Regions from separate parts of the Homo sapiens genome. Here region 1 is linked to region 2. The links come from fine-mapping of genetic effects on gene expression. A gene starts in region 2. The other region holds a variant in brackets. All regions are shown on one strand. Distances are from middle to middle. Region 1 overlaps UBE2R2-AS1 (UBE2R2 antisense RNA 1). Region 2 holds the start of PRSS3 (serine protease 3).

What was found.
Region 1: its variant is fine-mapped to the expression of PRSS3 in hypothalamus (GTEx, PIP above 0.99).

What each region holds. Positions count from the first base shown.
Region 1 is chr9:33,753,289-33,764,429 of GRCh38, forward strand. The region is part of intron 3 of UBE2R2-AS1 (UBE2R2 antisense RNA 1); the gene reads right to left. It also overlaps a transcript of PRSS3 not described here. Among named protein-coding and RNA genes, the nearest start is that of PRSS3, 37 kb to the right of the region's middle. RefSeq lists a silencer at 10,430-10,630. The variant A/G (reference allele first, on the strand shown) is at 6,077.
Region 2 is chr9:33,791,417-33,802,557 of GRCh38, forward strand. It overlaps PRSS3 (serine protease 3), which reads left to right and starts at 4,145. Exons shown (of 5, transcript NM_002771.4): 1 at 4,145-4,197; 2 at 5,227-5,386; 3 at 6,413-6,666; 4 at 7,070-7,206; 5 at 7,612-7,815. The coding sequence starts at 4,158. The coding sequence ends at 7,764. UBE2R2-AS1 (UBE2R2 antisense RNA 1) reads right to left here. Exons shown (of 5, transcript NR_170204.1): 2 at 8,367-8,497; 3 at 6,952-7,136. RefSeq lists an enhancer at 4,694-5,194.

The sequences.
Region 1 (11,141 bases), 38 kb before region 2:
TATCTTAGAGCTGGGTATAACCTTAAAGATTGTCAAGTCCAATCTTGTGGTTTTTCAAAGAAAAAAAACGGATTTAAAAAAATAAAGCAAGTACCTCATGTTGCTTCCCCAAATCTACTTCATTGGAGAATTACAGCTAAAAGCAATGTTCAGATTATTGCTCCTTCTGTCATGTGGTCTCTTGAGAATTTGCCAAATGTATAAATCCAGTGACTTATTTTGATGTACTCTTTTGGTTTGAGGTCTGTGACAGCAAACATAACCTCCCTGAATCCCAGCCTGAAATGCCTATGTACCTTCTGTTCTAACTGTAGCCGTTATTATAGTGGCTAAAGTTCTAACTTCTGTTCTAACTGTTCTCCTGGTTCCATGACAAACAGAGCTTTACTTGTCTTATTCCTAGCACAGTGCCCATAGCAGGCATACATAAAATGTGGTCAGTATGTCAGATAAACATCTGAAAAAGTATGACATGTCATTAGAAGTTCATTCAGCTACAAGAACAGAAAACCCTACTACAACGGCTTAAACAAGTAAGGAGTTTGTTTTTCTCAGAGAAGGAGAAGTCTGGAGGTGAGAAGCCTGAGGCTGGGAAAGGGGTTCCGATATGAACTCATCTGAGACAGGTTCCTTGTGTCTTCCCGCACCACCCTCCTTAGCATGGAGCTCTCATCCTCACTTCCCCAAGTTGCAGCAGAAAGACGGGCAGAGGCATGCTCCAGAAGAGTCTTGTCTTGTCTTGTCTTTTTTTTTCTTTTCTTTTCTCTCTTCTTTTCTTTTCTTTTCTCTCTCTGTCTCTCTCTCGTCTCTTTCTTTCTTTTGAGATGGAGTCTCACTCAGTGGCACAATCTCAGCTCACTGCAACCTCCGCTTCCCAGGGTTCAAGTGATTCTCTTGCCTCAGCCTCCAAGTAGCTGGGATTACAGGCGTGCACCACCACGCCCAGCTAATTTTTGTATTTTTAGTAGAGACGGGGTTTCACCATGTTGGTCAGGCTGGTCTTGAACTCCTGACCTTGTGATCTGCCCCCCTCGGCCTCCCAAAGTGCTGAGATTACAGATGTGAGCCGCCGCGCCTGGCTTGTCCTTCTTTATAATAAATAATAATAATAATAGCTTTTCTGGTAGCCCACCCCAAAAGACTTCTTACATGTCATTGGCCAGAACCATATCACATACACACTATTAAAGGTGAGGGAACCTGAGAGAATCTAGTGTTTTAGACGGACACGATGCCAATACATCAAAGTAAGAATTTTGGGCCAGGCACAGTGGCTCACGCCTGTAATTCTAGCACTTTGGGAGGTCAAGGCGGGTGGATCACCTGAGGTCAGGAGTTCAAGACCAGCCTGGCCAACATGGTGAAACCCCATCTCTACTAAAAACACAAAAAATCAGCCAGGCATGCTAGCAGGTGCCTATAGTCCCAGCTACTCAGGAGGCTGAGGCAGGAGAATCGCTTGAACCCAGGAGGCAGAGGTTGCAGTGAGCCGAAATCATGCCACTTGCTCTCCAGCCTGGACAACAAGAGCAAAACTCCATCTCAAAAAATAGTAATAATAACAAAATAGGAATTTTGTTAATAAGGCAGGGGGGAGAATGAACATTGGGTAGGCAGCTAGCAGCATCTGCCATAGTGTGTTTTATGAGTCGTAGATCCTATCTCTAAATAGGTTGTTATTTGTTTTGGTTTTTTGTTTGTTTTACTAAAAAGCAATGGGTAATGCAGTGGGTCTAGAGGAACTTTTTTAAATGGTAGAGTGCAAGGACCACTCTGAGAACTGCTGATGATGTAGGTCTGGGCTGGGTCTATAAATCTCCATTCCGGACGGGCACGCCAGGTCATCTGAGGGCAGGTGGTTGCGGGAATACATTTTGAGAAACACCGAATGTCGGGTAGTTTAGCAGAAGTGCCTTTATTTTATTTCCGTTAGCTTTTTGCCTCACTCCTCTTGAGGATATTACTTTATTTTTTAATTTTCTACTTTGGTCAACATAAATCAATGTATAGCCTTAGAAGTCGTTCATTGTAGAAGGTTTTTATTGAGTTTATACTGAGTATAGAACCCTAGTGGCAATTACTTTCAATGCTTTGGGTTGTGTTTTTCTGATATTACCATATCCTAAATAGCATGCAAATACGGGCCATTTCTTCTTCTCTTTTCCAGTTCTGGGTAACATCTATTGACATCCTACCAAGAAGGATGACGGTTTGCTCCTTTACACCCCCACCCTCCCTCTCACCTTCACATCCCTTTCTTTTAAGTTCCCAATACGGTTATATCCTAAATTTTTGATATGTCAATGTTTGGTGTGTATATTATTCCCAACTAAGGCACATGACACACCATGATCTTTACATTCCCCTTCTTGACCAGTCTTTCCCCCCACCCCATGGAATGGGGTGTAGGAATTGCTACATTTTCTTTAGTTGTTTGTTTGAGAACTCATCTCCAAGAACTCATTTCCTGGAGCCAAGGAAACTCATGGGGGCCCTCTGAGTGCTACTAATTGCATGGAGCTGTTGAGTGGGGAGGAAAAGCCAGGCTGCCATCAAGAAGCATTTGGGGTAAATTTTCTAAGCACATCTGAAAAGACAGAGTCTAGAACCTCCACGGTCCCTGTCTGTTGTGATTTATTTTCTCATTCTAAATACATACATACATACGCACTTTTTTTTCTGTCTAGGCCATCTCTTGTGGAATACATATGTACTTTCATACCCAATTATGTACAGTTTTTGTAATTTTACGCCTTTTTCTTAAAGAAGGCTCCCAAAAGTGTCTAAGATTCAGGCCCCATAAGAGGCGGTTGCTTTTTGAGCTTGTGCCCATTTAAGATGTCACTTTTCTTCCTTCACACTTGATTGCTGGTTTGGCTGGGTATGGGATATTAATCAGAAATCATTTCCTGTCCGAATTTTGAAAACATTGCTCTATTTTATTCTATTTTCTTATGGTGCTGTTGAGAAGCTGATGCCATTCTAATTCCTGATCCCTTGTATTTTGTTTTAATCTCTGGGCATTTGTAGGGTTTTCTTTGTTGTTCATATTCTGATATTTCATGATGCTGTTATTTAATGTTGGGGTGGGGTTTTTTGGCAGGGAGATACAGGGAGGTATCAGTCACTGTCCTAGGTATTTTATAGGTCTTTTCAATCCAAAAATTACATTCTTCGGTTCTGAGTGGTTTTCTTCTGTTATATAATTTTCTCGTTCTTTCTTTCTGAAACTTAAATTACTTAGACTGAATCTGAAAATGGGATCTCTTGGATTTGTCTTGTGATTTTATCTTTTTTATTTTAAAAAAATCCCATGTTTTTTAGTTCTAATAAATCTTCCAACACTGCTATTAAATGTTTACATTCTACCATTACATTTTTAATTATCAGGAGCTTTTATTGGCGAGAGGTGTGGTCTTCTAAATGGTTTTTACAGTATCCTGTTCTCATTTCATGAATGCAGTATCTTCTCTTATTTCTCTGAGAATATTAACTCAGTACTTTTTCTACATTTTAAAAGTTTTCTTCAGCTACCTACAATGTCTGTGTCTATTTTCAAAGTGACTTTTAATGTTGCTTTTGGCCTGCCTTTCATGTTGGAAGTTTTATACATGTTTAGGGATGCTGTGCGTCATCTGTGAGCATGGTTTGTAAGTTGGCTGGCTTCATTGTAGGGTGGTTAGGCAGAGAAAGCCTTCTTGATGGCTTATCGCCTGTCTCTAGTGCTTTCTAGTACATATAATGGGTTTCTCTGTAGAAAGATCTCATTTCTAGCCATTTATTCCTGTTTGAGAAAAGTCACATAATAACTTAGATGTATTTATTATGTCATCTGCTTAACAGCAGAGGTTCTTGTTGTAAGGTGGATAGGTGGAGGTCTAGGATTCAAAATGGGAAATGTGTCCTTGACTCTGCCTCCACTTTGAAGTTGCTGATGTTCTCCACATTTTCTTTTCTATTGAAAAAGCTCTGAGATACCAAGGAATGAAAACTCTTTGAATACATGTACAACTAATTTACTTTTTGATAACCATTTGCAAAATATCGATTATATTGGGAAAACATTTTTCTAATACCTCTAGAATTTGGGACAGAATTTCTGCCCTTGAAGGTAACCCTCCAAATCCATGCAATTTTTCCCTTGTACAGCCCCACAGTGATCATCAAAACTTGGAGCAGATTCATCTTTTTTTTTTTTTTTCCCTGGGAAAGGTTTAGATCACGTGAAGGGAACAGATACTACGTTTGATAGGAATGGTTCCTGCTTTAGCTTCCTAAGGCCTCTCACTTGGAAAGCCTGCCCATTAGACCCTGGATTTTTTGCTGTTAGCTTTTCCTTCTTAGGCGACTTCAACAAAGACTGCAAACTCCCTGACAGCACGGGCCCAGGCTTGTCACCTCTGCAACTCCATCACCCAGAATAGTGCCTTATGCATAATAGGCACTTGATAAATGTTAGTTGACTTAAATTGACCCTATTATCTGTTTTAAACTAGCCCTTCCTACCTGTCCCCTTGCTATTTCCTCTGTTTCTCTTACGTCTTTTTATGTCACCACCTCTTGGATGATGCTACCTCATTCTCAAATCTGATGGTATGGAATAGCTATAAGAAAACAAACTTGAAAGATATCTAACTACTAGGACTCTAAGTCGAATTTCCAGGATTCAAAACTCCCATATCACCTTACTAAATATCTAATTATTTCTTAGGTTATCACCAACCACCCTGCATCGAGTCCCTCCTGAGCCACAGTTCAGTTTGGATTATTTTTTTCCTCATGTTCCATCCCTTGACTGTAGTGCCCTTCCCTTCCTTCCAGTGTCTTTGATCGGCCTCTACTTTGATCCAGAGCTTCTCTTTGATCTGTTCTAATGGTCATTTTTCTGCCTCCTCCCCTACATTGATCTACAATCTGGCATATTTTATACATTATACAAAGCACATTGTTATGCTGATTTCAGAATACCTACCTGTCAATCAGACAGACATCTTTTCAAACCTAACTCAGACCCATGATGAAAGTCTCTCTCTTCTGGCCATTACTGAGATAGCTCCTGCTCTGGTCTCACTGGGGCTGTTTATTTCTCTATGGGAGGCTTTAGAACAGTAACTAAACTACAGTGCAAAACAGTGATCTGTAGATTAGTGTTTCTTAATCATCAGCACTAACAATAGAATCTAAACTCCCAGGGACCTGGAGACTTGGCTGAGAACAGCCTGACATAAGTGCAGTCTCTCTTAATACTAAAAAATTTATGCTACCCCAAAATATGTCTGTATCTGTTTTCAAATGAAAATCATTTTTCCAGAATCTTCAGGTGAAATTGATACTCCAGGATTATGTTCATCTTGTGATTTCAGATATCATCTGGGGGGAGAGGATTCGCACATATGCTAGTCTGTGAGATACAGTAGTAGAAATCAAAGGACTTACCTAGCTCTAAGAACTGTACGAAAATAGTGATGGTACCAACAATTTTACCAATGGCTAGATTTAGGAGATGGTGTTCTCTTGATTCAAGATTAAGGCTAAGCTCATCAGTTCAGTTCAGTTTAAGAACTATTATTATATATCAAGCTTGTGCTAGTTTATGATGGAGATGATAAGGTCTCTGCTCTTGAAGATTCTGTAGACTAATGGGCAAGACATATGTCACTATATAATTTTAATATAACATGGTAAGTGATAAAAATCATGGTATGTATAAGGTCCTTTGAAAACACACAGGTGGGGCACTTAGCCCAGCCTGGAGACTCACAGAGGCTTCCTGCAGGAGATAAGGCCTAAAAACAGAAACCAAGTAAGAGGAATGAAAAGGACATGCAATTTAGAGGGGACAACATCAGCAAAGGGGACACTGTCAGGTTCACGGTGGGAAGAATTGGGAGGTGACGCTGGAGAGGAGCCACATTCAGGTATACACAATGCAAGGGGATGTGGACCCCTCCACAGGCTGCTGGTTAGCCAATGGAACATTTTCCATCCTCCAGTAGGGTAGTCAGATATACACGGAAGGTGGATGACTGGCTGCGGGGTGGAAGAAGAATTCATGGACAGCAGGACTAGAGGCCTC[A/G]CAGTGTTTAGGAAAAAGACAATGAGAGCCCAAATGAGATCATTGCTGCAGGCACAGAAGGGAAAGAGAAAATACCAGGATACTTGGGGAAGCAAATTTAGCAGAATTTTGGTGTCTTTGGGGGCAATGGTGAGGGGAGAAGAGTCCAGAATGGCTCCCAGGATTCTGGCTTTCTGGGTGACTGGACGTTAAGCCATCACCCAAGTTTGGGATATGAGAAGAGAAGCCGATTTGGTGGGGAAAAAAGATGGTGAATTCAGTCTTGGACATACTGACTTGAGGTGTCTAAGAAACATCTGTATGTTTATGTGCATGTCTGTCTATTCAGCAGGTTGTTGGATCTATGAGTCTGAGACTTAGAGACAAGGTCAGAGCTAGAGATGAAGTTGTGGGAGTCACCAGTGTGCAAGTGGTGATTAATCCATGGGTGTGCATGAGAGTTCTTGCAAGGGGAAGAGGAAACGGAAGTAAGGGCTTATGCAAGGAGGATTGTTGAGTAAAGTGGAAGGCCCAGCCTCTGCCTGCTCACTAATGTCAGTGCTGAACAAGCCCACTGGCAGTGGATGCTGAGGGAAGGAAGGAAGGAGTCTGTCTGTAAGCTTGAGCACTTTTTCCAAGAGGTGGAGAAGGCAGAGAGCCCAAGCCTTGAAGAAATGTTCCTTAGTGGCCTGGCATCTCGGAAATTTGACTCCATGACTTTGGAGTGATCTTTCCATTATTATTTTCCTTGAGCACCCAGAAAGAGAATTCTGAACTAAATGTATTCTTTCACATGGCTGAGTTAAGGATAGTGTTAATTACTGAAATATATGTAAGGTTTTTTTTTTTTTTTTGGTTGTTTGAAAACTAAGCCCACCTTTGAAGTCCAGAGATGTCCTTTCACTCTAATGTATGCTGAGGTGGCAACTGGTAACTGCTTCTTTGTAGGTAATAGCCATAGCCTTAGTTTCATCCTCCTTTCTCCATGACTAAAACTTGCTCCAACTTCTGCATTTCGTTTTTATGATGTATTAATGAGGAGCAAAGACATAAAGGGGTTTCAGAATTTGGAAGAGCCATGGAGAGTCCCTCTTCCAAACTCCCTATTTAACAAATAAAGAGGCCGGGTGCGGTGGCTCACGCCTGTAATCCCAGCACTTTGGGAGGCCGACGCTGGTGGATCATGAGGTCAGGAGATCGAGACCATCCTGGCTAACACAGTGAAACCCCATCTCTACTAAAAATACAAAAAATTAGCTGGGTGTGGTGGCGGGCGTCTATAGTCCCAGCTACTCGGGAGGCTGAGGCCAGAGAATGCCGTGAACCCAGAAGGTGGAGGTTGCAGTGAGCCGAGATCATGCCACTGCACTCCAGTCTGGGGGACACAGCAAGACTCTGTCACAAAAAAAAAAAAAAAAAAAAATTAGGACCCTGAGAGGCTATGTGTCTTGCTCAAGGTCACAGAGTGAATTCCTAGCAGCATTCAGGCTAGGACCCAGGTATTCTGACTCAGTGGCCAGTGTTCTTGTTAGATAGTGAGAAAATAGAATTTAGTCCAATTTGTTTTTCAATCTCGAATTCAGGATCCAGCAAAACTGCCTAATTTTCATGACAGTTTGAAGAAAGGCCCAAATCAAATGCCTCCCCCTCTGTGAGGCCTACCCAGTTTCTCAGGTGAGAGTTACCCACTTTGTGTGCTATGCGCTAGGACTGCTACCAGTACGTCCCAGGACAATCAGTCTTTCACAAGTATTGTCATGTGGCACTTAACGACAGGGACATGTTCTGAGAAATGGGTTGTTAGGCGATTTTGTTGTGTGGACATCCTAGAGTGTACTTATACAAACCCAAATGGCATAGCCTACTACACATCTAGGCTATGCGGTGTATACTGTCAGTACTGAGCATACGCACTGTTAGCAGATGCTGAAGGGAGTCTGTAGGCGTGAGCGCTTTTTCCAAGAATTGACTTCAAACCTGTACAGCACGTTACTGTACCACACACTGTAGGCAGTTATAGCACAGTGGTAAGTATGTGTGTATCTAAACATGGAAAACATGCATTAAACATACGGTATTATGGCCAGGTGCAGTGGCTTACACCTGTAATCCCAGCACTTTGGGAGGTGGAGGCGGGCAGATCATGTGAGGTTGGGAGTTCGAGACCAGCCTGACCAACATGGAGAAACCCTGCCTCTACTAAAATTACAAAATTAGCCAGGCGTGGTGGTGCATGCCTGTAATCCCAGCTACTGGGGAGGCTGAGACAGGAGAATAGCTTGAACCCGGGAGGTGGAGGTTGCCGTGAGCTGAGATCACGCCATTGCACTCTAGCCTGGACAACAAGAGCGAAACTCCGCCTCAAAAATAAAATAAAATAAAATAATTAGCCAAGCGTGGTGGTGCACACCTGTAGTCCCAGCTACTCAGGAAGCTGAGGCAGGAGGATCACTTGAACCCTGGGGACGGAGGTTGCAGTGAGTTGAGATCGTGCCACTGTACTCCAGCCTGGGTGACAGAGTGAGACCTTGTCTCAAAAAAAAGAAGAAAAAAAGGTATTATAATCTTATGGGGCCACCATCATACATGCCGTCTGTTATTAACCAAAATGGCATTATGCGGCACCTGACTGTATACAGCTCTCTACTAGATTATAAACTCCTTGCAGATAAAACTATTCATTTTATCATTATCCATTATATTATTTCCTTAGCACCCAGAAGAATCCTGTATTTAATTGGCTCATATGGAAAATTTTAGAAAGAGAGAGACATCGGGGCTCAGACTATCTTCCGATCAGGAACCAAAACGAGCTGGGAGGTAACAGAGTTCTTTTTCATAGTAATTGTGTTCCATATCATGGTGAAATCGTGCCAGAACAAGCTTCAGACTCTTTCTGGTCTTACTCCTTCTGACCGTGCTGTTCCAAAGAACTTCCCATACAGGAAATAACAATGATGGCAGTAGCTGTCAAATTCTAAAGACGGGGATAGACTCTGGACCTCCTCAGGCCCCTGAGCCCACTGTAGAGCAGGGACGTGACTTAACTGAAGTTCAGGACTGCGGCCACAGTCACATCCACCTGTGAGCAATGGAGGACTTTCAACACAGAACCCTCTGCATCCCCTGCATTCTGTTACTAAGCAGCTCATAGAACACGAAGAGGTATTAACCTTGTTATTTGCAGAGTTACAAAAAGCTGAGTCAGGTATTCCAAAGCAAACCCAGACCAGAAGCCACCTGAGAGTTCGTGCCGGCAAGGACAGATTCAGAATGTACAAAAACGATGAAAATAATATTCTGTGATCACCCTATAACCTACTTCCTTACTGACCAAACACATGTCTCATTCCCATTAAAAAGTTATGCTCAGCCACTGCCCTCTCTAGGATTATCTGATGTTAAACAGTAATTCTGCCCATTTAGGGTCAGCTACTCAAAAGCAAAGAACAGCAACTTTAGGTCAAAATATATTCTTCCAGGAGAGAAGCCCAAGTCTCTCCCCTATTATTGCGGGAATAGTGTACGAGCACCAGACTAGAGAGGAAGCTAACACTTATTAAACATGTATTCTAGTCAGCTGCTAGACATTTTCAGGTAAGCCTCACAGGACCCCTCCAAGGTGGTATTAATGTCCCTGTTTTAGAAGGAGGAGTACTGAGATTCAGAGACATTAGAGAACTTGTCCAAGGTCTTACCAGTAAAAGTGGCAAAACCAGGATTGAACTTAGGTCTGACACTACATAGTTCATATTCTATTATGTGACTATATTCCTCCTTAAAGGAAAATTTAGGAATTCGGTTTCCTTTAGGAAGATGTAGGAAATAGAATGTACTGAAACTAAGATAACAGTTGACTTAAGTCTTTTCTAACTCAGCCTTCCTCAGGCCCATGTGTGAGCTGGTTTCTATCCTTTCCCTGAGACTCTTGGGCACATAGGACCATAATGTCTGTTTGATTTTACTTTTAAGTATATTCTTTTGGTCAGTCCCAGTCTAACAAAATTTTAAGATTTAATGCATTCTATCCATGCAAGAGAATTACATGTGGTTTTGCTTGCTAAAGAAGGTGGAGGCCGGGCGTGGTGGCTCACGCCTGTAATCCCAGCACTTTGGGAGGCCGAGGCAGGCGGATCACGAGGTCAGGAGATCGAGACCATCCTGGCTAACACGGTGAAACCCCGTCTCTACTGAAAATATAAAAAATTAGCCGGGCGTGGTGGCGGGCACCTGTAATCCCAGCTACTTGGGAGGCTGAGGCAGGAGAATGGCGTGAACCCGGGAGGCGGAGCTTGCAGTGAGCAGAAATCGCGCCACTGCACTCCAGCCTGGGCGAAAGAGCGAGACTCTGTCTCAAAAAAAAAAAAAAAAAAAAGGTGGAAATGATATAGGGTAAAGAGAGTAAGTGACATTATCTAGTTCACTCCCACCATATGGACGATTGGCTGCAACTGCCTCTCAGCCTTTGCATGTGTTATTTGCTCTGACTAGAACTCTGCCCACACTACCTGACTAATGCCTGTGTGTTTTTCCAGGAAGCTTTCATGACACTACCCTCTATAATCTTTCTCCTATTTCCTCCAGGCTGAGTAAGAATCTTCCCTTTGTTTTCATTGTTATGAGTGTTGTCTGTATACTCTAGTAAATTATTTTTATGTGAATCATAATAGTTTAATTAATCAGTCTTCTGATTCACAGTTTGAGCTGGCTATAGGCAAGGTCCTTCTGTAAAGAGTTGATGAAATCTACTTTTAAGAGTAGAAGGATAGACAAGATGCCAAGACAATTCAATAGGGAAAAAGAATAGTCTTATTAACAAATGGCTGGGACACTTGGATATTCACATGTGAAAGAATAAAGTTGGATTCCTACCTCACACCATATACAAAAGTTAAGTCAAAATAGATCAGAGGTCAGGTGCAGTGGTTCACACCTGTAATCCCAGCACTTTGGGAAGCCAAGGCTGAATCACCTGAGGTTAGCAGTTCTAGACCAGCCTGGCCAACATGGTGAAACCTTGTCTCTATTAAAAATACAAAATTAGCCAGGTGTGGTGGCACATTCCTGTAATCCCAGCTACTCAGGA
Region 2 (11,141 bases):
GATGACACAGTCTAGACTTTTATAAGCTAAATGAGTAGAAGGAACCCAGTTGACTGGATTTATCACCAAACCCAGCTTGTGAGCCTCAATTTAGAGCTAGTATAATTTAGAAAAATAAATACATACACCATATATTAAACTCTGAGTATCATGAAACAGATCCTAGATGTTACAATCATAAGAATCTATATGGGTGTTTCTCCTGCACTCTGTCCTGGCTTTCTTCTGCTTCCTGTCTAAGGGAGCCTGGACTCACTTAAGCAGCTCTAATAGGCCAAACAAGAGAGTGGTCAAGGAGTGGCTGAAATGTGAACAGAAAGACTCACCATTATATTACAGCAATCAATCTATCCTTAAAATAATTTAGGTTTAGTCTCAAGTGCTAGAGGCTTCCCCATTTACCCATACATGGAAGCCTGAAGAATAAACAGAACTATAAACTTCCCTCCGGGCATAAAACTTGCATGTCTTCCATGGCTTCAAGGTGGGGAGCAGCTGGGCAGGCAGAAGGAGGGGCAAGGGGCAGGCAAGAGGAGGGGCAGGAGGCAGGCAGGGAGGAATGGGCTACTCCATTTAGCTGATCAGCCTTGACCAGTTCATGCTCTGCGACTCCATATTACAAGTCAGACTTTTCTGGATCATACAGAGCACTCCCTTCACTCTCCAGATTCAGTGATTCCTGGGATGAGATAGTAACAAAAACAATTCCTTATTGGATAAAGCGAAATTGTGCCGTGGGGGAGATAAGAAGCTTAGAAAAAAAGAAAAATAATGGATGAGGAGAGGAGCTGGGAGTTTGGCGGGAAGACAGCCTAAAATCTGACAATCTGTTTGCAGAATGATAAAGGATGCTGGAACCCAAGGAGGAGTTGACTAAGAGCTTAGGAGAAAGATCTGGTGGGATTTGGAGAAGAAAGTGTTAAAAAAAAAAGAATTTGGAATCTGACACTTTTCAGACTACTATGAGGTCTGAAAGACTCATGTAGCAACGTGAAGAGGAACAAACTTTGTCTGAATAGGGAAGGTTCTAGTATGATCTTTGCTGGAGAAGTCATTTGAACTCTGAGTTTTAGATTGTTGATTTGTAAAAAGGAGAGAACAATATCTGCTGCCTACCACCTCAGTGAGGGTGCACCAAGGATCAGCTCAGAGGAGGCAAAGCAGAATGCCCTATGGCAGAGCATGGAGGCCCTAGAGTCAGACCACCATACTTACATCCCATCTTTAAAACCTACTGGCTGTGTGGCCTTGAGCAAGTCACTTTACCTCCAGAAAGCTCATTTAATCACCTGGAAAATGGGCAATCGCATAAGTGGTTGTAATGTAAAATGAAGAAAAAATTCTTAACTTATATGAGTTACATGCTGTATAGTAACATGGTATATAGTAAGCACACAGAATTGATTCACTGTTATCAAAATTGAAGGACAGTGGTTTGATGTGCTAAGCACTCAGTACAAGCCAGAAAGATGTCTTAGAGAAGAAGACAAAGAAATCTCTAGTTCAGGATGAAGAGTACCAAGAATGGCATGTCCTCCAAATTGAGCTTGGGCAGCTGGATCTGAACCTATCCTACACATCTGAGTCTACAGTATGAGGTAACAGTCTCCACCTATAGCTATCTTCTCTGCCTGTAAGGTCATTCCTTTTTGAAGAAAGCTGACCTCAGACTATACTGTGATCATTTAAGGAAGAGCGCAAAATACTGGAGAAGGCTAATCTTCAAGCTCTAGATACAGAAAATCCTCATATTCTTGGGTGTTCCTTTCAGACAGAGTCAGAGCCACAAGCACTGATCCAAAAATCCCGTTCTCCAAAAAAAGTTTCCATCTTCTGCCAAGGTTCACCTCCCTATTTAGTGCACACTGGTGTCTACAGTTGCTACAGCAAGAGCCTTTCCTTATCCTCTAAGGCAGGAGTTGTGTGAAGACCCCATGACAAGGGGACAAAATGAAACAACATGTTTAGGGGCAACACAGGAAAAACCCATATTATCAATGCTCCAAAACCTGGATACCTCAGGCTTGGCCAGTCATTTGTGAGCAGAGAGGTGTGTCATCTACATGGCAGTCATGGCCTGGATGGGTCTGGAACTGTGGCAAGGGAAGTCTCTGAGACAAGGTGCCAGGAGAAAGATGAATTCAATCATCTATTTCTGCCAGGAAGAAAAGCAGGAGGAAGGAATCAGATGCACAGTTTGTCCTCTGGGGACCTCTGCCTTGATCCTCAATAAATCTCCTTTTAGATGTCACCTGCAGCAATTCCCACAGTTCACAATGATCTCCATGGCTTCCGTTGGCCTTATGGTGAGCTCTGCCAAGATCTGTATTCTTGGGCAAGACAGAATCCTTCTGAATCTCAGTCTCTTCCTCTATAAATGGAAATAATTTTGCTCTGCACAAATCACAATTAGCATGTTTGTGGGAAGTCAAACTGTGAAACTCAGCATAACTGAAAAGCAATGTACCACTGTTGCTTATGTGAAAACTCTTGTAAAGCTGTCAGGCACCATGCACCATCTAAGTACAGCAGTGTTAGGTATGAGCCCATCAGTGATTAGAGGGGATGTGGGGTGGAGAGCGGGTCTCTGAGCAGTGGATCTCCTGGCTTTGGGGAAGCTGGCTCGTTGGCCATGCCAGGAGCTGAACCTGAAGGTACTCTGTGTGTCCTCTCAACTCCACGGGCCCCACATTCGCATTTTTTCCAATTCCCTCTGGTTTCCATTTGCTTCCTCCCTCTAGCCCCCTGGCCATGTCCGATCTCAACACGAAGTTTCTGAGCTTTTCTCATTTTGTTCACCATCTCCAGAACATCTCTGCTTCTTTTACTTTTCAAAGAATTTAAACTTGAACTCTGCTCACTCCTGCCCATCACCAACCTGAGCTCAGAGTTGCTGAGAAGGGAAAGCACCCTCATAAGGAAGCTCCTCCTTTCCTTACATCATTAGACTTGATCACAGACAGCATCTCCATCTCCACACTACTCTGGCCAGGTTGTGCCTCAGTCAATTACACAACTGTGTCTTAGTAGCCTTGGTAGGGCCCAAATCAGGATATTCTCTGGGAAGATTCACTTGATACTAAGCCCAGCATAATCTCACTGCATCTAAAATAGAAAATTCTAGACCCACCCCTCCACATCTTCTTATTGATCCCAATATGTGACCCATTTACCATGTGCTAAAATCTCTACCTACTGCTGATTCTCAGATCAGATGGTAACCCAGATTTACCATGGTCCAAACTCTGACATCTGATCAGGGGCATGTCATTCTGGTTCAGGCTGTCAGCCCTGAGCAGGTGAGTCAGTTTGCATCACCCTAAGTGCAGGTTGCCAGGACAACCGTGAGGCTGCATAAAAAGAACCTATGACAGGATGCACATGAGAGAGACAAGTGGCTTCACATTGAAGAAGGGGAGGAGTGCGCCATTGGTTTTCCATCCTCCAGATGCACTGAGTAAGCTCCTACCTAACCTGTGTCCCCTCCTTCTTTGAAACACTTCCCATCCTTTTAAGCCTTGGTAGGAAGGAGAGCCATCTGGAAGCCCAGAATCCTATGGAATGCTAAGTCTCCCTTCTCCTTACCCCTTAGTGTTGGAATTCTGGATACCCAAAGTCTTGGATTTGACCTTTGTGCACAGTGACTGCAAAGAAGCATATTCATATTCACAAAAATGAGCCTTAGATAAGACTTTCCTCCTCTCGTGGGGGCTCCAGGAAACTGAAAAGCCAAGCTTGTTACCAATGCTTGCCCTTCCTTAAGTACATTATTAAATACATCCCCAATAGTTAAAAGGACTCCTAGACACCCAGGCCATTCTCCCTCCTTCTAACCCTCATCTCCTCGGCCTACGAAAGCCCAGCTGTGTGATCCGGGGATTGGTTTCCCCTGTCTTCCCCATCCCAGCATCCTTCCAGGAAATAGCCAGTCTCCCTCTCTGCTCTCAGAAGGCAAGTTTCCTTATCACCTGTGAATCACAAACCCACAGAGTGGCCAAACGTAGCCGAGCTGATGCAAGACCCTGGCAAGGGGAAAGCTGCAGGTGTGTTTGTGCTGGGAAGAACTGTGACCCTCACCTCACAGACACCTCCTCTCCTGATTCTTGGAAGGGTATAAGGACAGGCCTTCCACCACCAGTCAGGCACACTCTACCACCATGAATCCATTCCTGATCCTTGCCTTTGTGGGAGCTGCTGGCGAGTTTCATGACCTGCCTCAGGCCCCACCCACCCCCTTTCCTGGCAGACACATGCCCTGCCATTCTTGCCACCTCTCCTCTTTTGACTGCGCTCTGATATTCTATTTCCTCCATCTGACATATCTCCTTCCCATCCTCCTTGGGCTCTCTTTAAGCCTCACCTGTTTCACCTTTTCCCTCATTTCACTCCCACCACTGTCATTCATCCATATCCGAGCTGTGGTTGGAGAAGCTGGGAAGGGAGACCAGGTGGGGCTGGCCCATGAAATGAAGTGGCAGGCTTCAGGCTTGGCTCCAAGAGCACCAGTATAGCACCACTATAGCTGCTCTTAACCTCGAATGCACCTGGGGAGGTTCAAAAATTACTCATGCCAGAGATTCAACTCTAGAAGTTCTAACTTCATTTGTCTGGGGTGCAGCCTGTGTACTGGGCTTTTAAGCTTCCCAGGTGATTTTTAACGTTTCCAGGCATGCCGCCAAAGTTAAGAATTGCTCTTCTATTGGCCAATAACAAAGTCTACCTTTGTTATGCCAAAGTGAGCCTGGGGCTGCCCTCAACTCTGCCCTCACTGCACAGATCTGAGCTATGGGGGAAGCTAGTCATGGCCAGGTCTACCCAGACAGGGGGTTTTCCTAGCTTAGCCAAAGTATCCTGACAATCCAGGGCTCAAATAGCCAGGGCAAGTACACAGGTGATGAATAAAAGAGAGAAGCACTCAGTGGGTGAGACAACAACATACCAACTGCTACCCCACTGGAAGCATTTTGAGGACATTCCTTGCATCCTCAGCCTGGTGTCCCCAGGAGAGATCTGAGCCCCTGCAGGGTACCTAGCTACGTGCCCTGCAGACACAGAGACTTGGGAGCCACATCCAGTGATGCTCACCAGGGGTGGCAGCGCTCCCTCCCTTGCCTGGCCTCACTGGGCTTGTTAAGGATTTCTAATTGGCAGGAAGCAACCGCAGGCTGGGAGCACCACCCCTAACATGCTACTGACTTGCCTTCTCCCTTCCTATTTCCACTCCAGTTGCTGTCCCCTTTGACGATGATGACAAGATTGTTGGGGGCTACACCTGTGAGGAGAATTCTCTCCCCTACCAGGTGTCCCTGAATTCTGGCTCCCACTTCTGCGGTGGCTCCCTCATCAGCGAACAGTGGGTGGTATCAGCAGCTCACTGCTACAAGACGTAAGTGTGGGGCCCCTGACTGCAAAGCTCCCAGCCAGGCTGCCTGGGAGAGCTTGGCTTCAGCCCAGGGAAGTACTGAGGTTGGGTAAGACGGATGGGAGAGGTGGTGGAAAAGAAAACTTGTTGACAGCAGCTGACTCTCCAGAGCAAGGCCAATCCATGAAACAGCAAGGGTTGTGGTCATAAAAGCAGGCAGGGATAATCTTGGAGTTGTCAGAGCTAGTGACAAAAGCAGGCAAGTACCTTTTGCTGGTTAGCTACACATTAAAGCGACCTAAGACAGAGTTTTTGAAAATACTGATGCCTGTGTCCTACCCCAGGGCAATTAACTCAAACTTCTCAGGAAGACAGTGTGAATACCAGTGAGTATTTAACACTCTACCTCTGGTAACTGTAGAGTGTATAGACAGAGCTGAGAACCGCTGCCTACACGAAGAACTCTCAAACCTGAGTATGCGTCAAAACCACCTGCAGGCTTATTAAAGCACAAATCACTGGGTCCCATCCCCAAGGTTCTGATCAGCGGGTGGGGGTAAGGACCAAGAATTTACATTTCTAACAAGTTCCCAGGAGATGCTAATGCTATGGCTACCCTTGGATTAGATTACACAGAAGGGTGGTGCTCACTAGGCCAAGAAGGGAGGGAGGAACAGGCGCTGTGCGCAGTTAGCAAAGACCTGGGGTGAAGAATGCTGGGAAAACTACGAGGAGCTCTTTGTGCCCACAGTGCTAGTGACTGTGGAGATTTGTGGGAAAGAGGCTGGGAAGGCAGGTTGAGGAGCAGCCTCTGGTGGGATCCCTTTGACTCTTCCCCACCCCACTACCACCAGCCTCTGAAGCAGAAAGGTCCTGGGTCTCACACCTGCACTGACCCACATCCCTCTCCTGCCCATGCAATATGGCCACACACCCCACCCCATGCCTCCAGAGCTATCCATGAGCAGTGAGCTTGAGGACCCTGGGGAAGGTGGGAGGGGTGCCCAGGCTGTGGGAGAAGGTCTTCACCATGCCTGCCCTGCCCATCAGCCGCATCCAGGTGAGACTGGGAGAGCACAACATCAAAGTCCTGGAGGGGAATGAGCAGTTCATCAATGCGGCCAAGATCATCCGCCACCCTAAATACAACAGGGACACTCTGGACAATGACATCATGCTGATCAAACTCTCCTCACCTGCCGTCATCAATGCCCGCGTGTCCACCATCTCTCTGCCCACCACCCCTCCAGCTGCTGGCACTGAGTGCCTCATCTCCGGCTGGGGCAACACTCTGAGCTTTGGTGGTGAGTGGGACCCTTTGTCCTTCTACTTCCCCCCATCCTCACAATTTCCAGAACGAAGCATGCCCCTTTATTTGAATCCTCTTGCCTCCCGGCTTAAGACACATTTCTAGTGCCCATTACACACAGTCTCTGCACTGGGCACCAGAGAGATGCAAAGTCTCAAGGACTTGGCTCCTAAAATCAAGAGATAGGACAAATGGAGAACTTGCTGTGATCACGTCTTGGGAGGGGTTCAACAATGATCATTCTGGAAACTAAAAGCCAGAGTCCCTTGCCAGAACTTACGTTTTGGAGTCCTCTCCAGAGGCAGTGTTCCTCTTCAATGTTCCATCCCAGATTATTGTCTCCTTCTCTGGCCTCACCCACATTTCTACTTTCTTTGATCTCTTCCTGATCCTCACAGCTGACTACCCAGACGAGCTGAAGTGCCTGGATGCTCCGGTGCTGACCCAGGCTGAGTGTAAAGCCTCCTACCCTGGAAAGATTACCAACAGCATGTTCTGTGTGGGCTTCCTTGAGGGAGGCAAGGATTCCTGCCAGGTGATTTGACCCTTTCCCATGCTGAGGCTCCCACCGATACCCAGGCCCCACCGGGGAAAAAGATTTGAACTCCCAAGGTGGCAGGGCTGAGGCGGCTCCCTGCAGTGCTCCCATGGAGAAATGAGGAAGGTGGCGGGGCTGAGGCGGCTCCCTGCATTGCCCCCATGGAGAAACGAGGAAGGTGGCGGGGCTGAGGAGGCTCCCTGCAGTGCCCCCATTGGGAAATGAGGGAGGCTCCCTTGTGCTGCACGCTGCCTGCTTAGGAAGAACAGAGAATGGGCCACCGTGGGAAGGACGTGGAGCCACAGAGCTGGCTGGAAAGGGGTCTTTTAAGGTTCACAGTAAATGTAGCTATATTCCTCCTCCATCTCTCTCTTTATACAACTTGTCCCTTCTTCTCCCCAGCGTGACTCTGGTGGCCCTGTGGTCTGCAACGGACAGCTCCAAGGAGTTGTCTCCTGGGGCCATGGCTGTGCCTGGAAGAACAGGCCTGGAGTCTACACCAAGGTCTACAACTATGTGGACTGGATTAAGGACACCATCGCTGCCAACAGCTAAAGCCCCCGGTCCCTCTGCAGTCTCTATACCAATAAAGTGGCCCTGCTCTCACTCTGTGTCTGTGCCGGCTCCCTCACACTCCTTCACACTGGAAAGCATCCTCCAATCTCAGGTCAGACAGGGCTGTCCCCCTGAAGGGTAAGCAGAGCCGCCAGCTCCCAAAATGTGTTCCATGGTACACTAGAGTAGCATATACAAAGAGATGGAATCCAAAAATAATACGAAGCTTAGGACAAAAGGGGCACTGTTTTCTAGAGAAAAGTGTTTCAGAAAGGTGGTCTTTGGGTGGGTGGTATTGATTTTTCTTTGGGCTTCTCACAGTGGTTAGAGCTACTCTGCCTTCGAACAATCACAGCACAGAAAATGTGTCAGCATCTTCGAGGTGGCCCAAAAAATCTGACGAGCTGAATCTTATTGCTAAAATACAACAATCATGACAAATGCTGTTGGTGATGACATGCCTCTCCCAAGAATGTGTCAGCACCAAGCCCTCCCTTCTCATTCACCTGGAAAATCAGACTCAAGTAAATCTCCCTGGCCCCCTAACTCTTCCCTCAATTCCCTAGTTCCATCTCTGTGAGCAGGCTAGAGAGATGTTCCACCTACCATAGCGGGAGCCCGACTGCGACTTGGGAATCAAGCCCAGCACTGCACGCTGCATTTTCATCTTCTTTGCCTTTGTGGTAGGACGCTGCAGTGAATCCCACAGCTAACACCAGCTCCCCACTCTGACCTGGGATAGAAATTAGAGAGGGTCAAGATTCACCCATTTGATCAATTAACTGAGGAAGGATTCATTTTCATAAAACTTGCTCACCTTTGAGACACTTCAAGTGAGTTATTTGGGACTCTTTTAAAAACGTGGAAGGAAAGACATCTGAGGGCTGTGACACCATCCAGCCACTCTGGCCACACGTTGGCTGGCTTGCATCCACTGCACGCAGCAGAGGAGGGCAGGCCCCGTGACACCTGTGACACCTGCCAAAGCCTCCTCCTGGCAATTCTGAGAGGGCCCATGTTAGGGATGTAGCTCATCCAAGCTTGTCACTGAAGATCCAAGCAAGCTTCTCTTTGAAATTCCACCTTTACCTTCTGTCCCAAGTGGTTGTGGACACCCATGGGAGCTGGTACCAAGGGCCAGGAGCAGCCAAGGGAGACAGACAAGTTCAGAGCACATTTCCAGTTACAGGGAACAGAGCACAGGCCTCCAAGTGTCCATGGAGCAGCATGCAAATTGCAGTGAGGAGTAGAGGAAAACCTCTACATGGAGCACAGCATTCCTGGCAAACACAGGGGACCGCAGTCCACATGCTGTGGAATATACCCAAGTATGCATCAGACACTTGTTTGGTGAACAGTAAATGTGTAAGATCAATTACCTTGAGAGGGCCATCTGTGCTCCACATGTGTGGTTCGTGTGAGGAGATGGCTACCACTCACTATCTTCCGAGGGAAACAGGGCTCAGGGCTTGCACACGATGGACAGATACACACGGGTCACCCAGAATGTCACTGCATACAAACATCACTTTGTTCAACATGGATTTTGTTTTCATGGAGTCCAAACGCAGACCCTAGTTCACCTTACGGCCTTGGGTTTGTCTGCTTTTGGAGCTATATATCCAGTAGATAGATAGACAGACAAGACAGATACATTTTCTCCCTTTCTTACCATAATGTCAATGCCTCGTCTGAATCTCATCATCACTCAAGAGTCAAGAGAGGAACCAAATGCTTCATATAAACAGGGCTGGGCGGGGAGCGTTAGTTTTCACTGTTTTCTGTCTCCATTCAGATCATTCCTATCAAAGCCCAGCTGGTTATCTGAAGCCAAGAGACAGACATAAGGATCCCAATGGCCTTCCAGATGGCTGCTTCCACCTCCTACCTGGGCTACTCAAACTCTTTATACAGGAAAGTGAGTCACCCCACTCAGAAGGGTTGCCAGCAGAAACAGGGCATGAAAATCACAGATAACCATGGGATTTGTTCCAAGTGGTCAGTGTGAAATAAACCACCACCACCACCACCACCAAAAACACAAAACAAGCAAAAAAAAAAAAAAAAAAATTAAATTAAATTTAAAAAAAAAAAGGCTTTTTCAAAATCCAAGACAAAATACTGTGTGAGAGCCAGGCCATGGCATTGCCTTTTCTCAGGCCACACAGCTTTCCCAGTCCATTTGCTCACATGGAACTGTGAGACGTGAAGGTCTGCAGAGCGTGTGCTGGGGATGGAGGCTGGTACTGTTCACCTGTGGGTCCATGCCAAAGGGCAAAGAGGCAGAAAGCTACAACTCTGTCCACCACCACGGCTTAGGCCTCCTGCTCACAGAGGCTCTGAAGAGCCCCCACCTCAGCCTTCACACAAAATATCTCCTTCTGGCTCAACTACAGCCAGGCTGGAATGCCATGGCATGATCTCTGCTCACTATAACCTCCGCCTCCAGGGCTCAAGTGATTCAGCCTCCCAAGTAGCTGGGATTACAGGCGTGCACCACCGTGCCCAGCTAATTTTTTGTGTGTGTGTTTTTAGTAGAGACAGGGTTTCACCATGTTGGCAAGGCTGGTTTTGAACTCCTGACCTCAAGTGATGCAAAGTGCTGGGATTACAGGCATGAGCCACCGCTTCTGGCCCAGGCCCTATGTTTTAAAAAAATTATTTCAACTTTTATTTTAGATTCAGGGGGTACACGTGTAGGTTTGTTACACGGGTATATTGTGTGATGCTGAGGTTTGGGGCACAAATGATCTCGTCACTCAGGCAGTGAGCACAGTACCCAATAGGTAGTTTTTCAGCCCTTTCCACCCTCCTTCTCTCTTCCCTCTAGTAGTTGCAGTGTCTACTGTTCCCGTCTTACATCCATGTGTACCCAGTGCTCAGCTCCCACTTATACATGAGAATATGATATTTGGTTTTCCATTCCTATGTTAATTTGCTTAGGATTATGGTCTCCAGCTCCATCCATGTTGCTGCAAAGGACATGATTTCATTCTTTTCATGGCTGCATAGTATTCCATGGTGTATATGTACCACATTTCCTTTATCCAGTCTACCGCTGATGGCCACCTAGGTTCATTCCATGGCTTTGCTATTGTGAATACTGCTGTGATGGACATGCAAGAGCATGTGTATTTTTGGCAGAACAATTATTTTCCTTTGGGTAAATGCCCAGTAAAGGAATTGCTGGGTGGAATGGTAGTTCTGTTTTAAATTATTTCAGAAATCTCCAAACTGCTTTCTTTATAATTTTTCCATGAACTAATTTACACTCTGGCCAACAGTGTATAAGCATTCCCTTTCCTCTGCAGCCTCACCAGCATTTTCTATTTTTTGGACATTTTAATAATAGCCACTCTGCAAACAACCTCTTTCAA